Regions from separate parts of the Homo sapiens genome. Here region 1 is linked to region 2. Evidence: fine-mapped expression QTL. A gene starts in region 2. The other region holds a variant in brackets. All regions are shown on one strand. Distances are between the middles of the regions. Region 1 has its middle 34 kb from the start of PLCB4. Region 2 holds the start of PLCB4 (phospholipase C beta 4).

What was found.
Region 1: its variant is fine-mapped to the expression of PLCB4 in fibroblasts (GTEx, PIP above 0.99).

What each region holds. Positions count from the first base shown.
Region 1 is chr20:9,033,409-9,036,320 of GRCh38, forward strand. No RefSeq gene overlaps it. Among named protein-coding and RNA genes, the nearest start is that of PLCB4, 34 kb to the right of the region's middle. The variant C/T (reference allele first, on the strand shown) is at 1,718.
Region 2 is chr20:9,067,638-9,070,513 of GRCh38, forward strand. PLCB4 (phospholipase C beta 4) reads left to right here and starts at 1,450. Exons shown (of 40, transcript NM_001377142.1): 1 at 1,450-1,569.

The sequences.
Region 1 (2,912 bases), 34 kb before region 2:
GTTTGTGTGTTCTCATCATTTACCTCCCACTTCTAAGTGGCGGTATTTGGTTTTCTGATCCTATGTTAGTTTGCTAAGGATAATGGCCTCTAGCTCCATCCACGTCCCTGCAAAGGACATGATCTTGTTCTTTTTTATGGCTGCATAATATTCTATGGTGCATATGTACTACATTTTCTTTGTCCAGTCTATCATTGATGGGCATTTAGGTTGATTCCATGTCTTTGCTATTGTGAATAGTGCTGCAATGAACATATGCGTGCATGTGTCTTTATAACAGAACAATTTATATTCCTTTGGGTATATACACAGTAATGGGATTGCTGGGTAGAATGATCACCTCATTTTGAGTCCTGAATCAGCCATCTCATACATTAGGTCCAAACTCACCCTTTGTAGTGACCCAAGCCAATAAGGTCCCTCTATGCTCAAACAAATTTGAGTTGAGTCCTGACATAGATAACCTTGGTCAACTGCTTGACTTCTTTACTGATGCAGCTTAGCATTAATTCCTAAACATTCTTCTATATCTCTGCTAGAGTAGAAAGAGAGAGGGAAGAGAGATTTCTTTCAGTATGAAGCAGTAAATCTTTCTCATACTTTGCTTTTTGTACATTGCTTTATGGTTTAAAAACACATGCATTTGAAGTACAGATAAATCAAAACAGAAAATGGAAACATAAGAAACTCCATTTTAAGAAATCACCATCTACTGTGTCATTAAGTCTTATAAAAATTTTTCTGCCATTGATAATTTTGGTGTCTCACCCAGACACCCAGTTGATGTAAATGTTGGCTGTTCATAGTTCATAGATGTATCCTTCTCTGGAGAGCTGTCCTTGGCTGTGGGAGCCGCCTCACCCACAATGCCCTGGGAAATGGTGGCTTCTCCTACAAAGAGCCCCCAGTTAGTAGCCAATATGGTGAATTTTTAAAAGCCCAGCCCCCTTGCTTTAAGGGAAGACAGCTCTGTGGTGCTGCTCTTGCTCCAGAGCTCCCTGCAGGAACAGGCTGAGGCTACCCTTTAGCTGAAAGTGATCCTATCTGGTTTCTTTCTGGTGCTATCTGAGTTGTTCCTGAGAACATCTCAGATTTCGCCTCTACAGAATCCTAGCTAAGGCATCATCATTAGCGCCTTCATACTCTATATTCATCTTTTCATTTTTATTCCTACTGAAACTACTCTCAGCATTCTATCTCTCATGGTGAGAGTTAGCTAGAGTTAGCTCTAGCCTTTCCTGTATAGAATAGTCAGTTTTAGCATTTACATCCCTACTAAAAATGCTTTTGAAGAACTTGGCGGCTGGGCATGGTGGCTCATGGCTGTAATCCCAACACTTTGGGAGGCTGAGGTGGGTGGATCACTTTGAGCCCAGGAGTTTGAGACCAGCCTGGCCAACATGGCAAAACCCCATCTCTACAAACAATACAAAAATTAGCCAGGCATGGTGGTGTGCACCTGTAGTCCCAGCTAATCAGGACGCTAAGGTGGGAGGATCAGTTGAGCTCGGGAGGTTGAGGCTACAGTGAGCCATGATTATGTCAGCCTGTGTGACATAGGTTGTCTCAAAAAAAAAAAAAAAATACAAAAACAAACTTGGCTCTGCTTAAAGGTTTCTGTAAAACCCTCCTGAATACTCACCTCTATCTCCCACACACCCCCAGATTTTAAGCATTCTGCTTTGACCCTCACAATGTTCTGCTTTATAGTAGTTAG[C/T]CTTTTGCAAGCCTGTCTTATTTGAGAAGAGTTTGTGTATCTTTCATCCATGTGTCCCTAAAGCATTTTTCAAAATTTTCCCCTCAGGATGCACACCAATAAATGCACTGGTGAGGATATCTTAGCTACAGCCTTAGAGCCCTTTAAATGCCCCCTGCTTGGCTGGGCTTGGTGACTCATGCCTGTAATCCTAGCCCTCTGGGGAGAATTACTTCAGGCCAGTAGTTGGAGACCAGCCTGGGAAACATAGCGAGATGCTGTCTCTACAAAAAATTTCAAAATCAGCCAGACGTGGTGACACATACCTATAGTCCCAGCTAGCTACTTGGGAGGCTGAAGCAGGAGGACCACTTGAGCCCAGGAGTTTGAGGCTGCAGATCACGCCACTGCACTCCAGCCTGGACATCAGAGTGAGACACTGTCTCTAAAAATAAAAATAAAAATAAATAAATAAATAAGCAAATCCCCCTGGTGCACAGCAGGGCTGGCACAACAGCCTAGAGCAGAACAGAAGGATGAGGAGAGATTAATTCACCCCAAGTGACTATGGAGATTGTGGAAGCAAAGGGGACAGGGAAAGGGGTAAATTGAAGGGAAGCCCAGATTTGCATGAGTGTAACAATATATTCATAAACAGAGAAGGCTTTGATTGTATGGGAAGAGGGGAGGCAGGTCTTTTCCTGGGCCAATCAGATAGTAGGAATGTGGTGGTGGTAGGTATAGCTGCTGGTGTACTTATTATATAGTCATAATGCACTAAGGTCCCAGTCAGGGTAAGGTTCTAGATAAAAGGCGCTATGATCTCAAGGCAGGTGGGGCCAGCTGGAGACAAGAGGTACTGGCATGGCTCCCTATCTTATTTTTCCATGAGTTTTCAAGGTCAATACAAGGTGGGAGACCACTCTCCATAAGAGGATGTCATTCTGTGTTGTAACTCATAAAAAGAATATGTCATTAGTGTGTATAACTTCTACTTGTGTCTGAACTTCCCCTTTTCCCAACAAGCAGGGGCAAGAGGTCCCTCCCGCATATTCCTAGTAGTGATTAATCAGGGAACTGGCATTTTGGACACATGGGCTGGGCAATTTGGCATCTTTTTTTTTTTTTTTTTTGAGACAGAGTTTCACTCTTGTTACCCAGGCTGGAGTGTGATGGTGCAATCTCAGCTCACTGCAACCTCTGCCTCCCGAGTTAA
Region 2 (2,876 bases):
GCCTGGACTATTGTTTGCACACACATTCCCCCTCCATTTCTTACACTTCACGCCCCGTCTGGCCCTTTCTTTCCTCCTGGCCAGCCGGACCGGCTCAGGCGGCTGAGCATGCCTAGTGCAGCTGCGAGCATGGCCCCAGTCCCCAATGCGCAGGTGCCACGTCTCCGGGTTTTGGTGGCCGCCGGCCGGGAGAAGGAGGAGGCGGAGTGGGGAGGAGGGAGCCCTCCGGAGTTCGGGAGCAGCACGTTGTGAGGGTCCACACAAGGGTGATGCCAGACCGAACACCATTAGGGCCTGGGTGTGAGTGTGACTCGGAGGCACCTGGGGGCCGTTGTAGGGCCGGGAAAAGCCAGGAACTGGCTGGAGCAGCACCCCAGCATCCCAGGGACCAAAGTCTGGGGGATTTGCATGTCTGAGGTTGCACTTGTGGGAAGACTTTTTGGAACCACTTAATCTCTGTGGCTCTGTGTAAGACCCGCGAAATAAAAAGAGGCAGTAGTACTCTTTGGAAGATTGTTTTAGGGATTAAATGAATAAAAAGCGTTTAGAACACTGCAGGACGCATTGTAGGCGCTGTATGGGTTTATGAAACCGAATATAAACAAATAAGCACGTCCCCCACCCAGCCAACGGCTTTGGGGGCCCCGTTCTGGCCAGTCCTGAGCCCCTCCACACGGCCCACGGCGGGCTGCGGGTCTCCCATCCGAGGAGGGTGCCGCTTTTCTGCCCCCGCTCCCTGGGTTCTGCGCCCAGCGCCATCCCGTGCGCCCCCGACCCTTGGGCATGGGGCACATGCCGCGGGGAGCCGCCAGGGAGACCCCAGAGGAGCGCGCCGCGGGCCGGCTTCCCCGGATGCCCCACCCACCTCCTCTTGGCGCTGCCCACCACCTGCCTCGGCTGCTCGGCCCCCGGCTCGCGAGGCTGCGCCCCCGACCCAGTCGGCGCCCACTCCTCGCCCTGCGGGCTCGCGGCAACTGGGCGGCCGGCCCGGCCCCTGCCCACCCCCAGCCCAGCCCGGCGCGCCGCACTGGGCATGCTCCGTAGCCTGGGCAGGTTGGGGCTGCGAGGCGACAGCTCGGGCTCTGGAGCCGGGAGGCGAGAACGAGGAGGGAGGCTCGGGGGCAGGGGAGGAGGAAGCGGCTGGCCGCTGAGGGGCGGCGGGGCCCGGAGCGGGGGACGCGCAGGGCCCGGCGGTGGGCGGGCGGGTCGGCGCTGCCCCGTGGGCTCGCTGGGGAGCCACGGCGGAGACCCCCGCCCTCAACTGAGGTAAGGACCGCGCGGCGCGGAGACGGGGAGGCGGGGAGGCCAGGGAGGGGGTGCGGAGGCAGGCGGGAGGGCGGGACTGGGGTGCGCCGGGAGGGGGCTTGGCGGCGGCTCTTTATGGCGAGGAGGGGGTGGTGGCGCCGCGCCGGGAGCAGTAAGTGAGCTGCACCGCCAACAAGATCTCTCACACACAGACACACACACGCACACGCACACACGGGCGCGCACACACACGCGCGTACACACTGGGTCTCCAGGCAGCGGCCGTCGCCGCATCCCCGGCAGCAGCTCCAGGCAAAGTGACAGGTAGGAAAAGGCATTTCGGGTCCCGCCCGAGGATGCTCCCGCCCGCCTTGGCCCTCAGGGCTTGTTTGCTTTCCGCGGGTGCGTCCCGGACGCGCGCGCGCGCGCACCCGGATGCCCAGCGGGGACCCCGTGCAGGTGCCGGGTGCCAGGCGCCCTGTGCGCGCGGGAGGCAGGGGACCCAGACGCCATCCCCCTTCCCCTGCAGTCATCGCCTGCTGGGTTTCCTCAGACTCTCTCCAGACGTTCACCCTCTTCTGGGCTAGAAATAGCTCGGCTCGACGTGTATATGATTATTTTGGTTGGAAATAGTTGGCACCGTGCAACGCATGTAAATGTGTATGCGTGTGGATCTTCTTGCCTCTTCTGGGGAAATCATAGAAATGATTGACCGTTTCCACTTAAAACAACACTGACAGGCTTAGCACTCATTGGGGGCAGGGTTCGGGCCTCCTAAAAGCCTGTTAGTGAAGGAAATCCTTATTTTCAGAATTTTAAAGTTGCTTTTGCTTTAACCAATTAGACTCTGTATAGTACAATACTTCTGAGTGTAGACTTCGTATATGGTACTGAATCGAAGTATGGAAATATGGAATTCTCTAATTTCCAAGTGTGTTTAAGTGCAACTTTATCTAGAATCATAAAACTAGCATTTTCCTAGAGAGAAATACAACTGCCCACTATAGTTTCCATAAATATGGATATATCTGAAAGATGACCCTACTCTTCCAACTTTTTTTCCTCTTAACTTCTGTAGTGATTCTAGCTATTGTTCTAAAACATGTATTTGAAATTTAATTTTGGCCAGAATATTCAGGAAAGGTGTTTTTTTTTCCATATACGTAATACTTAGTGGTCTATATATTTAAGTTATAGGTATGTGGAGATAGCTGTTTAATAATTCTTTTTGTCTGGAAATAACGTTATTCAAACATAGGCAGCTATGTATCATTTTAAAATGATATTGAATTTCCCCTTAAAGAGAAATCAGATTTATAATGTAAACATGACCAGGAAAAGCAACTGGTGACTTTACCTGGGGAGGCTCCAAGGAGGTTAAGAAAGTATCTGAACAACTGTGTTTTTCAGAATAGAAAAATTGTGTGTGTGTTGCGGGGGAAGGTAAAATTTTAACTTTATTCTTTTATTGTTTTCAAGACGGCTGTTTTCAGAAATGTGTGGTTGAACTGAGACCCTCATATTTTATACTCTTCAAATTTGAGTGGCCTCAGTTATAGAATCATACAGAAGATCAAAAGTCTAGCTCAGCAGGGGCATGTGGTGTAATCCCTCACTATCTGTGTTATGTA